3 separate regions of the Homo sapiens genome follow, and all the other regions are linked to region 2. The links come from fine-mapping of genetic effects on gene expression. A gene starts in region 2. Each other region holds a variant in brackets. All regions are shown on one strand. Distances are between the middles of the regions. Region 1 overlaps CYP7B1 (cytochrome P450 family 7 subfamily B member 1). Region 2 holds the start of CYP7B1 (cytochrome P450 family 7 subfamily B member 1). Region 3 overlaps CYP7B1 (cytochrome P450 family 7 subfamily B member 1).

What was found. PIP is the estimated chance that this variant, and not a neighbour inherited with it, causes the effect.
Region 1: its variant is fine-mapped to the expression of CYP7B1 in lung (TOPMed, PIP above 0.99). The same link has a PIP of 0.9 or more in esophagus mucosa.
Region 3: its variant is fine-mapped to the expression of CYP7B1 in subcutaneous fat (FUSION, PIP 0.95).

What each region holds. Positions count from the first base shown.
Region 1 is chr8:64,645,327-64,653,555 of GRCh38, forward strand. All of the region lies in intron 1 of CYP7B1 (cytochrome P450 family 7 subfamily B member 1), which reads right to left. Among named protein-coding and RNA genes, the nearest start is that of BHLHE22-AS1, 68 kb to the left of the region's middle. The variant T/C (reference allele first, on the strand shown) is at 4,103.
Region 2 is chr8:64,794,437-64,802,436 of GRCh38, forward strand. CYP7B1 (cytochrome P450 family 7 subfamily B member 1) reads right to left here and starts at 4,301. Exons shown (of 6, transcript NM_004820.5): 1 at 4,030-4,301. The coding sequence starts at 4,151. LOC105375879 (a long non-coding RNA gene) reads left to right here and starts at 4,345. Exons shown (of 3, transcript XR_928992.3): 1 at 4,345-4,661. LOC105375878 (a long non-coding RNA gene) reads right to left here. Exons shown (of 4, transcript NR_188111.1): 3 at 7,932-8,000; 4 at 6,163-7,090. RefSeq lists silencers at 4,099-4,208, 4,219-4,268.
Region 3 is chr8:64,721,513-64,729,797 of GRCh38, forward strand. The region is part of intron 1 of CYP7B1 (cytochrome P450 family 7 subfamily B member 1); the gene reads right to left. Among named protein-coding and RNA genes, the nearest start is that of CYP7B1, 73 kb to the right of the region's middle. The variant A/G (reference allele first, on the strand shown) is at 3,954.

The sequences.
Region 1 (8,229 bases), 150 kb before region 2:
AATCACCACACTGACTTCCACAATGGTTGAACTAGTTTACAGTCCAACCAACAGTGTAAAAGTGTTCCTATTTCTCCACATCCTCTCCAGCACCTGTTGTTTCCTGACTTTTTAATGATTGCCATTCTAACTGGTGTGAGATGGTATCTCATTGTGGTTTTGATTTGCATTTCTCTGATGGCCAAGGAGAACTACAAACCAGTGCTCAAGGAAATAAAAGAGGATACAAACAAATGGAAGAACATTTCATGCTCGTGGGTAGGAAGAATCAATATCGTGAAAATGGCCATACTGCCCAAGGTAATTTATAGATTAAATGCCATCCCCATCAAGCTACCAATGACTTTCTTCACAGAATTGCAAAAAACTACTTTAAAGTTCATATGGAACCAAAAAAGAGCCCACATCGCCAAGCCAATCCTAAGCCAAAAGAACAAAGCTGGAGGCATCACACTACCTGACTTCAAACTATACTACAAGGCTACAGTAACCAAAACACCATGGTACTGGTACCAAAACAGAGATATAGATCAATGGAACAGAACAGAGCCCTCAGAAATAACGCTGCATATCTACAACTATCTGATCTTTGACAAACCTGAGGAAAAAAAAGCAATGGGGAAAGGATTCCCTATTTAATAAATGGTGGTGGGAAAACTGGCCAGCCATATGTAGAAAGCTGAAACTGGATCCCTTCCTTACACCTTATACAAAAATTAATTCAAGATGGATTAAAGACTTAAACGTTAGACCTAAAACCACAAAAACCCTAGAAGAAAACCTAGGCATTACCATTCAGGACATAGGCATGGGCAAGGACTTCATGTCTAAAACACCAAAAGCAATGGCAACAAAAGACAAAATTGACAAATGGGATCTAATTAAACTAAAGAGCTTCTGCACAGCAAAAGAAACTACCATCAGAGTGAACAGGCAACCCACAAAATGGGAGAAAATTTTCGCAACCTACTCATCTGACAAAGGGCTAATATCCAGAATCTACAATGAACTCAAACAAATTTACAAGAAAAAAACAAACAACCCCATCAAAAAGTGGGTGAAGGACATGAGCAGACACTTCTCAAAAGAAGACATTTATGCAGCCAAAAAACACCACATTCTTAAAGGCTGTAGGATTTCTAGATGGTAAATGAGCACTGGCTTCAACTTAAAGTCACCAGCTGCATTAGCCCCTAAGAAGAGAATCTGTCCTTTGAAGCTTTGAAGCCAGGCACTGACTTCTCTCTAGCTATGAAAGCCCTAGAGGGCATCTTCTTCCAATAGAGGGCTGTTTTGTGTACATGGAAATTCTGTTGTTTCATGTAGCCATCTTCATCAATGATCATAGTTAGATCTTCTGGATAACTTGCTGCAGCTTCTCAATCAGCTTTACCTTGTACTTCTATGTTATGGAGATGGTGTCTTTCCTTAAACCTCACGAACTGCCCTTGACTAGCTTAGGGAATATTGTGGCTGGTTTGATCTTTTATTCAGACGGCTAAAACTTTTTCTCTATCAGCAACAAGGGTGCTTCACTTTCTCACACGTGTGTTCACTGAAGTAACATTTGTAATTCCCTTCAAGAACTTTTATTTTGCATTCACATCTTGGCTAACTGGTGCAAGAGGCCTAGATTTCAGTCTGTCTTGGCTTTCAACATGCCTTCCTCACTAAGCTTAATCATTTCTCGCTTTTAATTTAAAGTGAGAGAAGTGTGAATCTTCCTTTCACTTGAACACTTAAAGGCCACTGTAGGGTTATTAATTGGCCTAACTTCAATGTTGTTGTGTCTCAGGGAATGGGGAGGCCTGAGGAGAGAGAAAAAGATGGGGGAATGGTTGGTCAGTGGAGCAGTCAGAATACATACAACATTTACCGATTAAGCTCACTATCTTATATGGGTGCAATTCTTGGAGCCCCACAACAATTACAACAGTAACATCAAAGATCACTGACCACAGATCACTGAAAAAGGTATAATAATAATGAAAAAGTTTGAAATATTGTGAGAATTATCAAAATGTGACACAAAGATATGAAGTGAGCACATGGTGTTGCAAAAAAAAATGGTGCTGATAGATTTGCTTAATTCAGGACTGCCACAAACCTTCAATGTATAAAAGATGCAATATTTGTGAAATGCAAAATATGTCTGTATATATTTATTTATTATGAGGAATTGCCTCACGTGGTTATGAAGGTTGGTAAGTCTCATGATCTGCTTTTGGCAAGCTGGAGACCCAGAAAACTAACAATATAATTCAGTCTGAGTCCAAAGGCCTGAGAACCAGGGGGAGCTGAGGCTGTAAATTCCAGTCCAGAAGCAGCAGAAGATGAAATGCAATGTCCCAGCTGAAACAGTGAGGCAGAGAAAAGAGGAAAATTCCTCCTCCCTCCACATTTTATTCTATTCAGGCCCTCAATGTACCGGATGATGCCCTCCCGCAGTGGGGAGGGCAGTCTACTCTACTGAGTCCACTGCTTCAAGTGCTAAGCTCATCCAGGAACACCCTTACAGACACACCCAGAAATAATATTTAATCTGGGTAGCCATGGCCCAGTCAAGTTGACACATAAAGCTAATCATCACAAGTTCCTTTTAGATGCCAATGATTTCAAAAGAAGGATGGCTACTCTTAGCTTTATGGCTACAATTAGCTGACAGATCCATTAATCAATGGATTAATCAATTCATTAATTCAAGCAATTACTCTATACTCAATTTGTGTCAAGCACTATAATAGGTGACAAGGGCACATGGAAGAATAAGAGGATCTTCCCTGAAAGAGCTCAATGTTGACAGAGGTGGGAAAAGGTATATATAAAAAGTTAGTGGTACACTGTGGTGACTGTAGTGATAGAGTTGATTATGAATTATGTGCTCTGCCTTGTAATTCACTTCTTATTTTGATCTTTTTTTCTAGGAATTATCTGTATTTCATTATTCCTTGTCATAATTCGCCATTGAATTTAACCCTAGTCCATGCATCTACCCCTTTTCCCTGTATATCTGGTCCTCATATACCCTTGCCAAAGGAATATGGTTGTTAAAGAGAAATACAACGCTATTTAATGATGGTACCTGTCCTGGCCACACATATTTGTGCTCGGATCCCCACATGAAAATGCAGTTTCCACAATGGTTCATTCACAGTCCTGTGGGATGTACTCACATCCTTTCTCAACACATGTCATTAACACATTCTTTAATTTCAGTGCTTGTTAAGTGATGTCTTGATGGCCCTTTGCTCACTGCTATCTCTGTATCTCAGTAAAGTAGAAACTTATAATAATTAATTCATTCTGTTTTGCTCTAGCCTCTGCTGATAACTGGCAACTTTGTAATAATTGTATTTCCTTGTGATGATAATATTCATATCACAGTGAGGTATGGTAAAGGCAAGAGGTGTAGAAGATGCTATACAACTTTTCTCATATTTAATTCCATAAAATGCATATTGTAATTTCTGCTGAATGGGATATGGAAGAGTCAGATAATTCTCCATAATCTAAAATCTACGGTCTAGAATCAATTGCCCACCATCCAAAGTGACCTGAGGTCTAAAAATAAAATATGAATGATACCTTGTCATAGCCTATAAGAATTAGCATCATCCTTACCCACATGCTCCAGAATCTGTGCATTTTTAAAAAATCATGGTAACAAATAATATTAAATTTATCATCTCAACCATTTTAAGTGTACAGTTTAGTAATGTTAAGTATATTCCCACTATTGTAAAACAGATCTCTAGAACGGTTTTCATCTTCCACCACCAAAACTCTATGCCCACTAAACCTTTTAATCGGTTCCCCTCCAGCTCTTTAAAACCACCTTCATGAATCAATAAATTAATCAATTCATCAATTCAAGCAATTACTCCTGAATTTCCTCCCCCAAGCCCTTGGCAACTACCTTTTTACCTTCTGTTTCTATCATACTGACTACTGTAGATACATCATATGTGTGAAATTATACAGTATTTGTCTTTTTGTAACTGGCTTATTTTTGTTAATATAAAATCCTCAAGTTTCATCTATGTTGTTACATATTGCGGAATTTTCTTCCGTTTTAAGGCTATATAACATTCTTTTGTATGTA[T/C]GTACCATGTTTTCTTTATCCATTCATCTGCTGTTGGACATCTGGGTTACCTCCACCTCTTGGCTATTGTGAATAATGCTGCAGTGAACATTAGGTGGGCCTGTGTCTCTTCAAGATCCTGCTTTGAATTCCTTTGGATAGAGACACAGAAGTGGGATTGTTGAATCACATGGAAACACTATTTTTAATTTTTCAGCATCCTCCATACTGTTTTCTACCATGGTTGGACCATTTGGCATTCACACCAGTAATGTGCAAGGATTTCAATTTCTCCACATCATCACCAACACTAGTTATTTTCTGTTGTTTTGATAGTGACCATCCTGACAAGTGTGAGGCAATATCCATTTGTGGTTTTGATTTGCATTTACCTAATTACTAGTGGTGTTGAGCATCTTTCCATGTGTTTATTGGTCATTTGTATTTATTCTTTGGAGATATGTATATTCAAAGTTCTTTGATCATTTTTAATTGGGTTATTTATATATTGTTTTTGTTGAATTGTAGAAGCTTTTATATCCTAGATATTAACACATCATCAGACATATAATTTGCAATTATTTTCTCCCATTCTGTAGGTTGCTTTTTCACTGTTGATTGTTTCCTTTGATGTGAAAAAGTTTTTAAGTTTGATATAGTTGTCTGTTTTTTTATTTTGTTGCCTGTGCCTGTGCATATGTTTAAAATAAAACTGTCTTACAGTTTAATTTCAAAACAAACAATGGCATAAGTTTACAGAAGCTTCTCTCTAGTAATACTCCCAGAAAAATATATAAGTTGGTTGGTCTATATGGGTCAAGTTTATTTAGACTGTGTATCTGTTCCTAATAATAAAATGAATCAAATAATATACAGATTACTATGAACTGCCTTAATGTCCTAAAAAAAATTAGAAACAAAGTCATAGATCAGTCATATATAGAAATACTTAATTCTTGGCTGGGCGTGGTGGCTCATGTCTGTAATCCCAGCACTTTGGGAGGCTGAGGTGGGCGGATCACCTGAGGTCAGGAGTTCGAGACCAGCGTGGCCAAAATGATGAGACCCCGTCTCTACCAAAAATACAAAAATTAGCTGGGCATGGTGGCATGCACCTGTAGTCCCAGCTACTTAGGAGGCTGAGGCAGGAGAATCACTTGAACCCAGGAGGCAGAGGTTGCAGTGAGCCTAGATCGTGCTGTTGCACTCCATCCTGGGTGATAGAGCAAGACTCTGTCTCAAAAAAACAAAAAAAGAAATATTTAATTGTTTATGCCACAGGTAAAATCCTTTCTAATATAAGCCTGGCAAAGATTTTTAAAAGTTTAAATTGTAATAACCTTGACATTTATTTTTTTAACTTGGACCTCTAAGAAACTTACAATTTAATAACATAACCTAAGAGCAGCAGAAAATTTTCTAGGTTGGCCTTCACCTGTCCTTTCATCCCAGCAAATACACCTTCTTCTAGAGTATTCTGGGGCCTTCTCCATAGAATGCTGTGGGGTTGGGCTCAGACGAGGCAAATGACCTGTGAAACCTCTTACAGTTTTCATTGGGTGTATAAAATGTACTTGCAAGTGCTGACTTTCTAAATTAAAACAACCTATAAAAGTGTGTTTGAGGTGGGGGAAGACGGAGATGAGGAAGAAGGCTGAGACATCCACAGTGTATTCTGATCACATGAGCTTTGGAAAAATACTACTTGGAGAATGTTTTAGGGGTTGCTTAATGTTACCAAAACCACTTGGTTCTTCTGAGATGGTTTCTCTCTTCTCTGACAGAGCTGAGAAATGAGGCTCAGTCTTCTATTATGCAGGGTAGCCAGAATATTAAGAGACCCACTCCCAAGACTACACTGCAGAACTGCATGATACACAGGTCCATACTAGTCTGCAGCTCTTTCAATAAAACAAAATGGTGTGACTCAAAGATAATGTTGGAGAAGTGGATGAACATATTGAGCCTCTGTAATTTAAAATAAATTTTGCAAATGTTTCTCAGACAATGTTGGTGGTTAAGGACGTAGCGTCTGGAGCCAGATTATCTGAGTCTGACTCCTGGTTTCACCATCTACTCAATGTGTAATCTTGGAATAAGATCTTTTTCTGTATCTTGGCTCCTGCTATGAGCTGAATGTTTTTGTCCTCTCAAAATTCCTACATTGAAACTTAATCTCCAGTGTGATGGTATTTGGGGGTGAGGCCTTTGGAAGGTGATTAGGTCATGAAGGCAGAGCTCCCATGAATGGAATTATTGCTCTTATAAAAGAGACCTCAGAGGGCTCCCTTACCTCTTCTGCCATATGAGAAAACAGTGAGAAAGCACCATCTATGAACCAGGAAGCAGCCCTCACCAGACACCAAATCTGGTGCTGCCTTGATCTTGGACTTCCCAGCCTCCAGAACTAAGAGAAATAAATTTGTGGCTTATAAGTCACCCAGTCTATGGTATGCTGTTATAATAGCCTGAATGAACTAAGACAGCTCCCTTTTCTGCAAAGCAGAGATAATAATACTGTTTACGTTGCTGGGTGGTTGTGAGTATTCAGTAGTGTGTATAAAATCTTTAGAAACATTCAAGCTCATAACAAAGGGTCTATCAATGATAGCTATTGTTGTGAATCACATATAATTTTACCTGAAAATTAACAGGTGAACATTTTGAGATAAAGAAATCTAATGGCTTACAAACATTCTAAAATTATAAATACTCAAAATGCAAATCTAGGCCTCTTGACTCCTAGCCTATGATCTCTCCAAATTACCAATGATTCCAAACTTTCGTTATTCATAGACTACTAACAATTTTTTTTGCCATATCCACGATACACCTGGTTATAGTATTTTATTAGTCTCTTTTAAAAATTGGCTCATTCCTATTCAGAACCTGAACTCAACTTTGGACCAAATGGATCTAATAGACCTTTACAGAACGCTCCACCCAAAAAACAACAGAATATACATTCTTCTCATCACCACATGGCACACACTCTAAAATTGACCACATAATTGAACATAAAACAATCCTCACCAAATGTGAAAGAACTGAAATCATACCAAACACACCCTCAGACTACAGCACAATAAAAATAGAAGTCAAGACTAAGAACATTGCTCAAAATCTTGCAATTACATGGAAATTAAACAACATGTGGCCAGGCGCAGTGGCTCACGCCTGTAATTCCAGCACTTTGGGAGGCCGAGGCAGGCGGATCACGAGGTCAGGAGATAGAGACCATCCTGGCTAACATGGTGAAACCCCATCTCGATTAAAAATACAAAAAGTTAGCCGGGCGTGGTGGCAGGCGCCTGTAGTCCCAGCTACTTGGGAGGCTGAGGCAGGAGAATGGCGTGAACCCGGGAGGCAGAGCTTGCAGTGAACTGAGATCGTGCCACTGCACTCCAGCCTGGGCGACAGAGAGATACTCTGTCTCAAAAACAAAACAAACAAACAAAAACAAAAAACTAAAAAACAACAACATGCTCCCTTTTGGGTAAATAATTAAATCAAGTCAGACATAAAGAAGTTCTTTGAAACTAATGACAACAAAGATACAACATACCAAAATCTCTGGGACACAGCTAAGGTGGTGTTAAGAGAGAAATTCACAGCACTAAATATCCACATCCAAAAGTTACAAAGATCTCAAATCAGCAACCTAACATCACAACTGAAAGAATTAGGGAAGCAAGAGCAAATTAACCCCAAAGTTAGCAGAAGCCAAGAAATAACCAAAATCAGAGCTGAACTGAATAAAATTGAGACACGAAATACCATTCAAAAGATCAATGAATCCAGGAGTTGGTTTCTTGAAAAAATTAATAAGATAGATATACTGCTACCTAGACTAATAAAGAAGAAAAGACAGAAGATTCAAATAAAAACAATGAGAAATGATGAAGAGAATGTTACCACTGACCCCACAGAAATAAAAATAACCATCAGAAGCTATCAGGAACACCTCTAGGCACACAAACTAGAAAACCTAGATGAGATGGATAAATTCCTGGACACATACACCCTCTCAAGACTGAACCAGGAAGAAATTGATTCTTTTAACAGACCAATAATGAGCTCTGAAACTGAATCAGTAGTAAATAGCCTACCAACCAAAAAAAGCCCAGGACCTGATGGATTCACAGCCA
Region 2 (8,000 bases):
ACAGCAGAGATTTATCTCTCACAGTTCTGGAGCCTGGGAAGTCCAAGATCAAGGCACAAGCACATTCAGTATCTGATGAGGGCCCACTTCCTGGTTCATAAATGGCCATCTTCTTGCTGTGTCCTCACATGGACAAAGGGGCAAGGGAGCCCTTTGGGATCTCTTTTATAAGGACACTAATCTCATCTATGAAGGCATTGCCCTAATGATCTAATTATAACCCAAAGACCCCACTGCTTAATACCATCACCTTGGGAGTTAGGATTTCAACATATGAATTTTAGAGGGGAAGCAAACGTTCAAACCATAGCATCACCAAAGAAGAGAGAATCTGTAAATATCTCAAGCTTTTCATAGATTCACCTTGACAAAGAGTAAAACTAAGCTTCCATGAGTTCAGAATAATTAGCCAGAAATGTATCTGCGTGCTAAAACAAAAATCAACACTTCATAGGAAAAAAACAAAATCCAAAATCCAGAAAGATAGTGCTTCCAATCAATAGACTGGCATTATTAAATACTGGCAAGGATGTGGAGCAACGTAAACCCTCATGTATTACTGGCGGAAGTGTTCAGAAAAAAAAAAGCAACAATTACTTCGAAAAGTGTCAATTTTCCGAAATGGTTGTGGATAGAAAACTCTATATTCTATGCCCCTCAATCTTCTCTCAATCAATATGTTATATATATTACAAACCACAATTAAATAGAATGAATGAACTAATGATAGATACAACAACATGAGTGAATCTTAAAATCATTATGTTGAGAGAAATAAGTTATACGCAAAAAAGGATACTGTATAATCCCATTTATATGAAGTTTGAGAATGAGCAAAACTGACTCAGAACTCGGGTAGGAACTGACTAGAAAGGAGTGTAAAATATTTTCCTCTTTCTCCGCCAGGCTCAGTTTCCATAAGGAGAGTGGCCCAGGCCCTCCTCTTCTCCATCAAACCCTTTCATCAGGCGATCTCAACTTGTTCTTGCTTTAATTCCCACTTCACATTTATGGCTTTCACAAATATGTATCCTGCCTGGACCTCTCCCCTGAGCTTTTGGTGCTCACTGCCTATTTAACATAACCCAAAGAGAATTATTGATTTCCTCAATTCTCCCAAACCTTCCCTATCTAAGGAAATGATATTACCGTTCACTAAATAATCAGACAAAAAACCCAAAACCAAAAAAAAGGGAAACAAAACTTCTAAGCTTCATTGTTGATTCCCATCTCTCTCACACATCATGTTCAGTCCATTAGTAAATTATGTTGACTCTGCTGTCAAAAATGTATCCTGATTCTAACCACCTTCCATCAACCCCACAGTCACAACCCTAGGCTAAGCCACTGTCATCTCTCCTGACAAGTACTGCAATGGCATCTGTGATTGACAGTCTCACCAGATAATATCCAACAAGGGAAAAGACAATTTCACAAAAGGAAATCAAAGTACTGTAGCCAAAAGAGGTGGAATTGGTAAGTGTCTGAAGGGAACAAATGACCTCTGAATTGATTTTTACCGATTGTTAAAAATTTTTTTACCATTTTTATAGGTAATATTTAAATTTTTACTTTGGAACATCTGGCATTCCTATACTATGCAATATTACAAACTTTTCAGCCATAATTGTTCAAAAGATGAAAATGGAATGAGAATAAAAATGTAATCTATGTATGTATAAAAATCTCTCAATGTGATAATGGAAAACTGTGCTGAATATTTTTATCATGTTAGGAACAAGAAGGGCTTTCTAAGCAAGGACATATATCCAGAAACTCTTAAACAAATGCAAATTACAATAGTAAAAATAATTGCAGCTGGTATGAAAGAGTATGAAAATTCCCATTACATAAGAGTCTTTGCTGATTATATAGAAAAAGAACCCAATAGAAAAATAAATTATTGAAGAAACAGACAATTATTTTCTTTAAAAGTATACAAATTCCTTTAAAAGTAAATACATGAAAATTTGGGATAAAAATGAAGCTGCATTTTCTTTATGTATCAGATTGGCAAAATTAAAATGATTTATAATACCAGTATTGGCAGAATGTGGAGAAATTGGCACTTGCACTACATTAGTAGTAACATAAATTGAGACTTAGAGTAGTTTGGCAACATCTATTAAAACATAAAGCACACATACATTTTGATAACAACTCCACCATCTTACATAAATATTTCCACAAAAGCTCAAAGATATCTATGTTTTGTGTGTGTGTTTTTGTGTATCTATGGTGTATATTTATATAATCATTACAAATAATGACTTCTATAAACTGACATAGGAAGGGATCTAAAATGTATTGCAAAGTGGAAAATATAAGGTGCAACACAGGGTATATTTCCCCACGATTTTTATTAACATATATTCATGCATATTAGCATAAGCTTTAAAAAATCTGTAAGAATATATCAGGGACTCTTAACCATGTTTCTGTTCTTAGAGGTGATATCTGAAAAATCATTTTCGTAGAGCATTAGGGTAAACTATCCAAACATTAGAAATAAGGAACATGACTCTGTACTGGGACAAATGAAGCTATCTTCTATACACTGAAATGCAGTATAATCAAAGTAGTGTCCTATAGATTTGGGGCATTAAACGGTCTTCCTGGTATGAAGGAATTGGCAGTTGATGGCATGAATATCTCAGTAAAATAATTTTTCATGATATAGAGAAAGATCAGCCTATTCTCAGAATGCTAGAAGAGAAAGCCTACCTTGCCCTTTTGCCTTCCTGTCCCTCAAGTTCCACATTCTCACACCAATCACCTTCACTGATCTAAACTGCCCTAGTCAGCTTGTCTGTTTCTACCCTGCATGTAAAGTGGGAATAGAACCAACAGCCTTCTTTTACCACCTCTCTTTAAAGGCATACCTAGGGGTGCATCTTAACTGGCTTGCAAATGCAAATAGAGACCCTGCAAATAGAGAAGGTGGAACCTACATAGAATCACATACCACTGAAGTTCAAGTGTCCTGAGTCCTCATCTTGGGCTCTAAAGCAAAAGTACAGCCATTGGAAAAGGCAACCTGGAAGCGCACATTCCAGGAACATCTCTGAAAACTGACATGGGAAGAAAGGCAAATACTCCTAGAGTACTCATCTCCAGGCATTCTAGAAATGTCCATAGATATTTGTATGCAGTACAAAGGTGTCACTTCCCCCAAAACTATTGAGAAACAACCTGTATCACACACACATAGATATCTATACATTGATACATATGTATGCAAATATACATACATATATCAATTATCATCCAACAAAATGCATCCGCTTGGTTCTCAAAAGCGATGAACACCAGAGCAGTATGAAAATAGGACCCAGAAAGAAAGGAAAAACAGATTAAACTCAAAGTGAATGATTTTATCTGAACTTCTCTATTTCTACTTCCACAATTCAAATTAAAGTGACACACGTCTAGATTTTGTCATTATTGTGTGTTTTGTTTTGTCCTTATAAAAATGATAGGACAACTGCATAAAATACTCTCCATTAACTCATTTAGTACTCACAAAAATCTCACGAGGCATGTACTATTATTTCAGCTTTCCAAATGAGGTACAGTGAGGTAAACTGAGGAAGAGAGGCACTCAGAGTTATTGTTCACACCATGCACTGGCATTTTCTTGAAACAGTTCTCTTTTAACTGATGAAATTTAAGAATATTCCCCTCCTGAAATGCTCTATGAATTCTAGGCCATAAAATATCAACTCGCAGTGGCAAGGCACACAATGTGTCTGTGATGCATAATGCATACCGCCAACCTAGGGCTTATTACAACTTACGCTGGAGCAGCAAATGGAATTCGGTCCCAAAGCTTTAATATGTACGCGTATGTGTGGGAAAAAGACAGAAGAAGCCTTTGTTATTACAAAGTCCCAAAGGAAGCCAGTACCCCGCAGCAAGTTCTGACTGTCTGCACTGGAAATCATGGAGGGGGACTCCCCTCGCCATCTGGGTCGCGCGCGGCCCGCGGGGCCCAGGGCGCATGCGTGGCCTGGCGGCCGAGGCGCTTACCTGGTGCGCCGGACAAGCAAGCAGAGGGCCAGGAGCAGCAGGGCCGCGGCGAGGGCCAGGCCCGGGAGGCCCAACCGCTCCAGCGAAAAGCGGCCCGTGGCCGCGGACACTTCTCCTGCCATCCGGCGCGCGCTAGGCCGCGGTGGGCAGCCCGGGGTCTGCCTGCGAACAGCGCGGTCGGCGACTCTGCAGCCTGCGGCGGCTTCTCTCGGCGGCGCCCCCTAGTCCAGGGCCGGAGAGGCTGGCCTGCCCGCAGCGCAGACAGGAATGTCACCGTGGTCTCCCAGGCTGAATGACAAAAGTTCGTGGACTGCCCCCTCCCCGCCTATCCTCCACCCACGCGTACCGCCCCGTTCCCCCACCGTTTCCGACCCGGCAGCTTCTGGAAAACAGCGCCCTTGATCCTCCCGGGCAGGAAGAAGGGCCAAGGAAGGGGTTAGAAGGGAAAGAGTTAGGATTTCCCAAGAACCAGCCCTGAAGGCCTGGAGGTGGGGGATTTCGCTTCTTAGTTGGACGGGAGCCCCTTGGGTTCCTCACTTCTTAGCCCGCGCCCTGCGGGAGGAGCGACTCTGCTTGTCCCTCAAGATGCTTGTGAAGGTGCCCGCTGCGCTCTGACACCGGCGATCTCTTAGGTACGACCCAGCGGGGTTGGGCTGGCGGCAGAAACCGGCGGAGTGCGCGACCTCGAACCCGTTTCGCGCCCACCTCCTTCACCCCCTTACATCCTATTTGCTCACAAGTTTTGGTTCAGGCCTGCTGTGTGCAGAGGCGCGTGCCAGAGACACGGAATACAAAGACCTAGGCCGTAAGCCTTTAGAAGTCCCGATGAGGCACACAGTACAGGAAGAGAGTGAGACAGGTAAAAAGAGATTGCAGAACAGCGTGGTAGGGGACGAAAGAGAAGTGGTTCAAGTACTACAGGCTGTACTCAGAAAGAATAAGGGAGAAACTTTTAAAATACCTTTTTCTGAGTAATGACCATCCACTGGGTACTTTACCCACGTTTTTACTTTCTATTTTTAATGTGTATTTTATAGAAGACATAATGAGACTCAGATTAAGTAACTGAACTTGGTTGCTCACTTGATAAATGTTTACCATTCCCACTGATAAATATCGGCCGTTCTAACCACGGTCCTATTCGAGGACTTGTGTGCTCTGTCAATGCAACACTTCTCTGGAATGGGTACAGCAGCTTCAAAACCAATCTCTGGTTTTTTACCCTTCCAGTCCATCATCCCCATTTCCACCTCCCTAAAACACAGACCTCTCCAGCTTTTACTCTGTTCAAAACTCTTAATGGTTGTCTTTGTGACGAAGTCATATCCTCCACCTGCAATGAGAAGCCCTGCACAAATTGTCTTCATTGTACAACTCCCCTCGCCAGAACGGTTCCATATATATACTCAAGCTTGGGCCACCATGTCCCTCATACTCAGCCTGTTCACATTATTAACTTAAAAAATCCATTGTAGTTTTGATTTGCATTTCTCTAATGATCAGTGTCATTGAGCTTTTTTTCATATGCTTGTTGGCCACATGTATTTTGGAAATCAGTGTGGTAGTTCCTCAAAGACAGAACTACCATAGGATCTGGCAATCCCATTACTGTGTATATACCCAAAGGAATATAAATCACTCTGTCATAAAGACACATGCACGCTTATGTTCATTGCAGCACTGTTCACAATAGCAAAGACATGGAATCAACCTAAATGTCCATCAGTGGTAGACTGCATAAAGAAAATGTGGTATATACACCATGAAATTCTATGCAGCCATAAAAAAGAATGAGATCATATCCTTTGCAGGAACATGGATGGAGCTGGGGGCCATTATCCTTAGCAACAGAAAAGCAAATACAGCATGTTCTCACTTATAAGTGGGAGCTAAATGATGAGAACACATGGACACATAGAGGGGAACAACGGATACTGGGGCCTGCTGGAGGGCAGAGTGGGTGAGGAGGGAGACGATCAGAAAAAATGACTAATAATTACTGGGCTTAATAGCTTGGTGATGAAATAATCTGTACAACAAACCCCCATGATGTGAATTTACCTATATAACAAACCTGCACATGTGTCCTAAACTTAAAAGTTAAATACATAAAATAAAAATAAAAATTCACAATTTTTAAGTTTTGAAAAGGAGAGAGGAGACTTTATTTCTTCCAAAGGGTTACAGCCTGCAAGGTGGCCATCCAGGCAAAACTAGAGACAGGCCCTTCAAAGGAGGGCTTGGGGTGGGAGCTTTATGCTGAAGAGGTTGGCTAAACATATATATTTAACTGGTTACAGGAGGAGCTATGAATATTCATGAAGGTGGTCCTGACACATGCCTATTGAACAAACATGCACGTAACATATGACCCATGTTCACTTTGGGGTGGCTACTTAACATTTAAATGTGCTACAGTTATGCTTTATATATCAAAAGATCATTTTACATACAAAGGTAGGTAAGTGTGTAATCTCTGTAAACTGGCAAAACCAGTCAATGGTCAGTGGTCTTCTTAATCAGGAGAAAGTTACTGAAACCAGACTCTTGTCCAATCAAAGCTGTAGTTATGGCTTGTGGAACAGCAGGGTCAGTTAGCATCTGATGGTGGATGAGCTGTGACTTTTAATGTTGCAAATCCTGAGGCCAGTGCTTTTTTAGTTGCTAGAGTGAATAACCTTGTGGTGGTTAGAACATAGTATATATTTTAAGTTTTACTGTCCATGGTTCTAAAGCTGTGAATGGCTAGATTAGCCCCAGAATCTTGATGTTTACGAGCCTCTTTGTCTTTGACTTCTATTCCAGAGTCTGTCTCCTGCCTCTCCTTTCTCCTGTTGTACATTGAATTTTCCAGGCAGTCCAAAATATTGCAGTAAACTGACAGCCACTCTGTCTCTTCCAAGAGAAAACAAATTGAGTGCTTTCCGTCACTGCTGGGACAGCAGAGCCAGTTTACAGGAGGGAGTCCATGCTGGGGCATTTCTGTAACCACTGCAGAGAGCCACTCACTGATTTTCAGAAGAAGTCTCAATCCTCATACTTCTGTTTTCCCCTAGATGACCTTTGTTTAAAAATATAATTAAAATACTAAGAATTCATTCTACTTACTGAACATTTATTATTTGCCAGACACCATACCAAACATATTATTTTATCACATTAATAACAGCAAAAACCCATGGTTGATTGCCCTGCCTTAGAGAAGTGGAAGGAAGAAGCCTGCATAGTTATTTACCAGATTTGGTTTGCAACTGTATCATATTCCTATGTTATCTGCACAGTGGCTTACTTGGGACACTTTATTATATATATGCAATACATCTTAAATATATATTTCTTTTGGGTTTTCCACTTTTATTAAAAGGGACCTTCGCTCTATAACCAGATTAAAACAATCTAAAGATACCTTTTATTTTTCTTTTACTTTCATGGTGGCTCATTATTAGCCTCATTATATTCAATCCAGTTCAATTCAGTTTTAACGCCAAAGTATACCATTATCCCCATCACCTCTCTGACAGAGATTGCCGGTTGACCCTCCATATCTGCTCACCCCTTCCTCCTCAGTAACAGAGTCCTCCATTTTTAACTGAACAAATGCCAGTCCATCATAAAGACTACTTCTAGTTAGCTGGGTGTGGTGGTGTACACCTGTAGTCCCAGCTACTTGGCTAATCAGGAGGCTGAAGCAGGAGGATCACTTTGAGCCCACCGAGGACTTAGAGGCCACAGTGAGCTATCATCAGAGTACACTACTGTACACTCCAGCCTGAGCAACAGAGCAAGAAACCCTGTCTCTCTCAAAAGAAGGAAGGAAGGAAGGCAGGCAGGCAGGCAGGCGGGCAATATAGTGAAACTGTCTACTAAAAATACAAAAATTAGCTGGGCATGGTGGCACGCACCTATAGTTCCAGCTACTCGGGAGGCTGAGGCAGGAGAATCGCTTGAACCTGGGAGGCAGAGGTTGTGGC
Region 3 (8,285 bases), 73 kb before region 2:
TGTCGCACTTTAAGCAAAACCAATGTATAAATGTAGGTGAAGGATGATTAAAAGATTAATATTTGTGATGCACAGTATTAGCGATAGGACTTTTTCGCAACAGCAAGCTCTCCTCTTGAAATTTACCGTCTTAAAAATGTGTATGACTTACAGCCATCCTGGATTCTATCTAATATATACAAAATAATACTTTGTATAGATGAAAATATTTACAGATATATATTTCATATCTATGAAAACATTTGCAGTAAATAACACTATATCTTTATGATAGATAGCAAGATACACAGCCTATATAATTATGACACATATGATATAGATAACATTATCTACTGTAAATGTTTCATTTATTGAATTATTCAAATAAGTCAAAAGAATCTGTATTATTCCACCAAGAATGTCAGTTTATAGAAATTTGATTATTGTTAATCAGGGCCTGTTCTTGCTTAAAAATTTAACTTATAAACCTCGAATTAACTATAAACAATTTATAATTTTAAAAATTAGCATAACAGGAGCACACAATGCTTTTCTTGTTATCAGGAGGTTGAGCCATGGAAGTTCAGAAACTATAATTAATTTCTTGTTTAATGAAATTGGCCAAAGCTGCCATACATCATGCTGTAAGTTGCTTCCTGAAAGTGAAGTTCCTTTTGCATCTTACGCAGCAAAACTAGTTTATAATTACAATGGAAAACTCTATGTTGGAAGGCCCTGGCCTCTCTAGACTGTACTTGCAAATGGAAAACAGAGCAGCCTAAGCTGTCCAGTATGTGCTTCCCAGACCTTATGTGGCCCATCAGAGAAGTTCCCCAAGACAAACTCAGTGTTGAAAATATGGCTATGAATATTAGCCATAAAAATCATGTTTTAATTCAAACAAATTCATTTTAATGTAAAGAAATCAAATAAACATGAAATAATTTCAACAAAGCATTAGATGATAAATACCTTTCTAACTTTAGACATAAGGACATTAGCTACTAGAAAAAATCTAACATAATTTTAATGCTTTTACTTTTGCATTGAAATTAGTGTGTGTCAAAAAATGAGATAACACAGTAGTTTTTTGCTTACATGGACACATGTTAATAGTTCTGTGGGATATTTGCAATTTTCACTTTTATGGTTTCAACTCCTGATGCTTACCTAGGAAAACTGGGATCTCGTAGTATAAAATTTAAGAAAATCAAACAAATGACTTAAAGGGAGTAGAATGATTTTTTGCGGCGGGGGGGGGGGGGCGGGAGGTTTTTTTTTATTATTATTATTTTGCCTTAATCCTCTCATTTGGTTTAGAAACATAAGGCCCTGTTCACTTCATTTAAGCCTCACAATGACTGGAAGCCTGATCAATCTGTCTTGTGTCTTCTTAGGGTGAAACTGCAATTGAGCGGAAGCAACAGATGAACAAAGCCCACATTCAAATCTGTAGCTCATTAAAATAACGTTAAAATAGAGTAAAATCTCAATTGTAAGTGAATCGTAGCTGGCTTTTTTTTCTGCTAAATACATTTGATTAATAAACTATACAATCATTAGCCCTGAATCAGTAGTCTTTAAAGTAAATTTAAATAAATGTCTACTTCTTTCTAAAAACTTGAACATTTTGAAAACCGTTTTGGAAATAGGCTTTCAACAAAGCACTACATGAGATAACTCTGCAGCATGCTCCAGTGACACATTCCATCAAGACATGATTCACAGTAATTCTACAGTTTATGGTGCTTTCTACAGTATATGGAGGAACCATACACAAGATAAAATCAGTAGCAGTCAATGTAACACTTCCCCCTCCAAACTCCTATCATTCTATAATGACACAACATCAAGTTTCTATCAATAAATGCCAAAATAGATGTGCTATGCCACAATTTTTTATCCAAATGCCCAATAAGTAAAATTTTTAGAACTTTTGTGAATTTTAAGTAACCCAGAAGTTCAGCAGGGAAATTCACAAGTAAGCATACTACCATTCCAGTCTGTACCTAATCCAGGGTTGAAATCTTTATTAACACATTTGACTAAGACAGTCAAGATTTGTAAAAGTCGGATTTTAGTTGGGAACACATGTCCATAGTTATGTCTGATGGATTTTTGTTATAAAGTATAATCATGTTCTAGAAACTGCTTAGGCAATCTAAAGATATCTGTTAAAATAAGACATGCAAACATTTTTCAACCCTAAAACCTCACCTTTAAGAAACCAATCTCAAAGAAATAAAAGCACCAGTGTAAAATCATATATAATCAAAGATATTTGCTGTAGAATTGTTTCTTGGAGCTAAAAAAGAAAAAAAAACAAAAACAAAGTAGAAAAACTGTCGGCCATTCATAGTATGGAATATTATAGAACGTTAAAAGAGTCTGTTAAAGCTACACCAGTTGACCAGGACAATTTTTCATGATATACTCTTAAATAAAAAATAAGATGCAGAGAACACATCTTTAAAAAACTAACTGGCAAAATCCCTCCACATACATGGGTGTATAAACAAAGTTCTGAACAGATCATATGCCCACAGAGAACGGTCTGAAAGGCTATGTACAGGTTGTTGATATAAGCATAGAAAGGAACGGGGTTGGGGGAGGTAGGGGTGGAGGGTTGGCTAGTAACCAAAAGAATAATTTTTTTTTTTTTGAGATGGAGTCTCGATCTGTCACCCAGGCTAGATGGAGTGCAGTGGCGCAATCTCGATACACTGCAACCTCTGCCTCCTGGGTTCAAGAGATTCTCCTAACTTCTGCCTTAGCCTCCGAAGTAGCTGGGACTACAGGCATGTGCCACCACGCCCAGCTAATTTTTGTATTTTTAGTACAGACGGGGTTTCACCATGTTGGCCAGGCTTGTCTCTAACTCCTGGCCTCGCGTGATCCACCCGCCTCAGCCTCCCAAAGTGCTGGGATTACAGGTGTGAGCCACCGCGCCCAGCCAAAAGAATGAATTTTTTTTCCAAAAGTCCTCAATGACAACAGCATATTATTCTGATATATCTGATTTTTACAATGAGCCTGTAATAGTTAAATAATCAGATTAAAACAATAAAGTCATTTTCACAAATAAAGAAGAGATGTCTGAGAAGCAAGTCTGGCTGGAAGCTTTTCAGGTTAACAGGCAGCTTTGCAGGTTAATTCCTAGTTTCTTCATTTGCTTGTATTGGGGCTCTGAAAATGATACTCCAAAGTATGATGCTTTGGTGTGCTGAGTACTTTGAACTAAAAGATGTAGGGCTCAGAAGCAGCCTCAGAACGAAGATCTCTCTGCCCTCCTGCCCTCCTGTTTCTCTTCCCTGGCTCTCTCTTAAGGTGAGTCAGAATAAACAGAATTCCTCTTCCCCAAGGCAGTTCCCCTTTTCCCCAAAGACAGACATAAAACCTAGAAATATTACTCTAACCTTCCCCTGTCTTTCTGTCTGTCAGCTGGCTGTAAAGAAATTCTCTGACCTAACCTTGTCCGATAGTACGTCATAAGACCCTCATTCCAGAGGTTTCCTGCCCATTCCAGTGAGAAGAAATACTACAACAGAGAAGCCAAGAAGAATCTGAACAGATGGGAGGCCTTGTTGGGTTTCCCCATCAATCCGTAACCATTAGATCACCCCCTTTGGTCCAATCACATTTCTACATAGCTGTCCATTTTTCACCAAACCTACACATAAAAATAGGCAGTGTTCTCTGAGTCTTTGGGTCTTCATTGTGAAGGCTCCCAAGTCACATAAAATGTTGATTATTTAAATAAAGATGCTATGCTTTTCTCTTGTTAAGCTGTGTTTTGTTATCAAAGTATCAGCCATGACCCTTATTGTGAGAAAGAAAGGTGTCACACCCTGTCCACTTCTACACTTGCTTTATACTTTTGGAGAATCACTGAACGTCTCTCTCCACTTTCCCCCTGTGTCAAGTTAGGTAATGTTAAAGTCAGCATTATGTGAAATCATGCATTTAAAACACCT[A/G]GAAGCAGGAATGACTACTCTAAGCCCTCAATACATTGTGATTCTTAAATCCTTCTCCCTGACTCTTGCCCTAGGGTTTCAGAAGGTGGCTTCCTTGCTGACAGTGGGAGCTGGATTCAGGCTGAAGTAGCTACTAAAAGGCTCTCATATACACACATAACTGCAAGGCTTGGGCCTGTCAGATCACAGAAGGGAATGCAGAGAGTGGGAGAGGAAGGTAGGTTAGGAGGAGGAGCAGGGAGGGAAGACTGACACACTTCTTAGATATCTTTTGGTGATGAAAACAGAAAATATGACTATGAATCCATTAGTAACACACAGTGATAGAGAAAAGCATCTCTGACTGTTGATAATCTAGATTCTGATCAGCTGCCTAGTATCTCTTCTCCTTCATCATGCCCTGACCTCACTCATTGGTCCACCAAAAGCCCACCCTTCTCAGTGGATATGCACAAGCTCTGCTCACCACAACAATCCGCTGTCGTGTGGCTGCAGGGCCAGAGATTTCTGAGTAATCACAAAGGAAGCAGACCGTCTGTTTCATGGATATCTTGTTCTCCTGTGAGGATCTGACTGACATTTTTTAATTAAACTGGCCCACTGGAGTTTAATTAAGGTGTTGTCTTCTTGAGATGAAACTAAAGAAATATAGATCCCTTTTATGGAACAAACATGTAGGATAAGAAACCTTCTTCTACCCCTCTGATCTTTAAAAAAAAATGCCCTCAATTGTTTCTTTTATTCCCAAACGTTTTCTTCTTTTTATTAACAAAGTTGTTTCAGAAGTGACTTAAAATGGCCCATAGGCTAGCCCCATAAATCTACAAGTATCTGAGAAATTGCAGAGACTGATGATGTACGTTGGGGGATAAGAAAGTCTGCCTTTTAAATTCAATTTAATAGAAATCAGCTTAGAAAATATGCATTGACTAATGGCCCAGTAATGAACCCAGTTACAAAAAGTAGTTTGAATCTCACAGGGAAACTAACCAGGTTAAAAAAGTACATAATAAAAGCAACCTCCTATTGGAACGGGCACTAGATTGAAGTCAGGGTTGCTGGCTGTGGCTTTGCCCTTCCATTTTTTGGCGCTGCATCTTTAAGCAAGTTACCTAGCTTCTCTGAACAGTAGCTGCCTGATTTGCAAGATTTGAGTGTTCTACCTCGCTGTGTTAAGGCAAAGATTAAATGGGATAATAAATGTGAGAAGCTTGTGTGGCCTGTACAAATACAGATAACCATCACTATTATTTGGGAGAATTTCTTTTGGAAACGATTCTGAAGTTAACTTAGGATCATCTGTATAGCAGACAATGTTGAATCTCCTTCCCATTCCTTCTTGCCACTTTTGCATGCACCCCACCCCGATTTTGTGGTCTGGTGCTTTCAGTCCCCCACCCCCAATTCCTGTAGCTCTTTGGAGGACAACTCTCAGGCTGATGGAGCCACTTTGTGACAAGGGCAGAAAGTGGGAAGTGCCTGAGGGCCTATGATCCTTTGCACACCCTGAGACTATCATCCAATGAGTATGGGATGAAGGAGCATGAACCTGCAACACAAATAGGTCTAATTCATACTCCAGAGTGCTATAGGGTTAGACTGAATGAAGTCACACTCTGGGAGATTCTGTCCAAGCTAAGTCAAACCCTTCCTCCACTTTCTCCCTTCCCTGCTGTGCTTTCCCTGCCCACTTAAGGGTTTCCCCTGGGAGTTCTACTTCTGAGGAACCCAATCTGAGACAATACAGTATTATAAAGGCTCTCAATTCATTTTCCTTCATTTGAGAGCCTAAATTTTTATCCTTCTTATTTCTTTTAGCAAAAAGTATAATAATTCACCATTTCTCTTTGCTGACTAGGTTTCCAAATGACATAATTCCCTAGCATTTGTTGCTTTCATTCAATTATCTTTCCTCACAAATTACTTTTTGTTCACTTGAGATCTTTTAATGTATATATAGTCAATGAGCCAATTTTCATGATAATTCTCATGAATTAGGTATTCACACAATATGTACATTGATCATAATAGTAAATGACACAAAGGACCTAAGTTTTTGAAAAGAAGAATTATCATGAAGATTCCAACATCAAAGCCACCGCATCTGTCCCAGTACTGCATTCTTCTAAACTGAAAAGGACTATAGGGAACAGTTGACCAAGTAGAAATCTTTAGGCAAAGATTATGCTAATACACATGCCCACAGAGTCAGGGAAAGTCAGTCTAGAAAGCCCAACGAGAACAATCTAAAGTTTTTTTAGACTGACAGACTTAAAACCAATACTCAAGGTTCACAGCCAGGGCAATGTGCTTGGACAATTCTAACACAGAACTCCAATGGTATCTTCTATTTCAAAACACAGGAAATGAAGCAAAAAAAATCTACACTTGGATTCCAACCTTTTAAGAAGCATGGTTAATTTGAAATATACCTGAATATTCAACAAAAGTATGGATCAAGAACATTTAAATTAACCTCTTTCATTACCATCATTATCTCTTCATCCTCTCATTCACCACCACAATGGAGAAGTTATGCTTGCCACTCATTTGGACAATAGGGTCATAAGTCGTGGGTTTAGCATGCAGTACCTGCTGTGGTACACATTCTTCTGTTAATGAGCATGCATAACTCTTCATCCCTAAGGAACTGTCTCTGCACATAAAAGGATACATAATTTTTTATAATGCCAGAAAGAAGTAAATACAGCTCATTGAGTTTTCTATGGGAGGATTTGGAGAGTTTAATTATCATGCACTGCCAGTATCTCTAGGCACTTACTAGACTGGTTCTTTTTCCATGTATCATACCACCAAGTTACCAAGTATATTGTTACCAAATACAAGGTAAAAGCACATTTTAGATCCTTGTGCTGGTTTCAGTGGTCATATCTTACTGCTTCTCTCTAGAGAGCAAGTCTCAGGCCACTAAAGCCACTTGGTCACATGCAGTGAGCAAAAGTGCAGAGATCAGCAACAGATCCTTCCCCACACTGTTAGCCCCTTATCTCAGATGTGAAAAACTCTTAAGGTGTCAGTTACACCAACCATAATTGATGTGTAAAAGACTTCTCCTTCCGGATGTATTCAAATTTTAAGTTATTATAATTGTTGAGTAAAAGAAAAGCATTGCATTTCCTCATAATATATATTAAATGTTCTGCAAAGAAGCTGACACATACTAAATGTTCAGTAAATGTTGGTTGCTATTATTGTGTTTATTAGAATGATTATTATCGTTAAGAAAAACTCAAGAGAATTATCAAACACTTCTAGAAAAAATCAGGAAAACAACTGAAATTCAGTTTCAAAATGTTCAAGAAATTTCTGCCATTTCTTAAATTGTTTATAATGCAATGAGTGAAAAAAGACTGTTAAGAGAGAATATCCTACCCAAGAAATTCTACCTTAGACCAGGTTCAGTGGCTCACACCTATAATCCCAGCACTTTTGGAGGCCATGGCAGGTGAATCTTTTGAGTCCAGGAGTTCAAGAACAGCCTGAGGAACATGGCAAAACCCCATCTCTATAAAAAAATAGAAAAGTTAGCTGGGCATGGTGGTGTACTCCTGTAGTCCCAGCTATCAGGGAGGCTGAGGTCTAAGGATCACTTGAGCCTGGGAAGTTGAGGCTGCAGACAACTGTGAGAGTGCCACTGCACTCCCGCCTGGGCAACAGATCGATACCCTGTCTCAGAAAAACTGTAAGAAAATCAGAGAAGCTCTAAGATAACAGCTAATGTAAATATGTATTTCAGATGATCTTATGATACTTGACACATCAAAACAAAGTGAAAAGTATTAATCTAGGACTTTCTATCCTTCATTACTTGATCAGAACATACACAAACATATTCACACATGCACACATACACACATTCATGCACACACAATCTTACAGAGACACATTCAGACACACACGAAGGCAGTCCTTGACTTGCAAGATGGTGCAGAGCCATAAACATGACCATTTATGCTGAACTGTGCAAAGCAGTGTTAATAATAAATGCAAAAATTTATGATTGTTCTTTGACCTTTAAAATTGTTTGTCGAGGCGTTAAAAACTCTTATGTTAGTTATAAATGTTAGAGAAATAAAAAATTAATATAACTAATATTTATCCAGCATAGTGTAATTTAAAACACCAGAAGACATTTTAAGCGTGAGATTTTTTCCCTTCATAAAAATCTTAACCAAGAATAGCTTGAATTTCTCGTCATGAAACTTACAAGAAATGGGGTAAGCATCTTGCCTATGTCCTGATGAATCATCACATTCCTTTCTAAATTTGGATCCGATTCTAACATTTTGTCCTGTGTGCTCTGAATGTTAT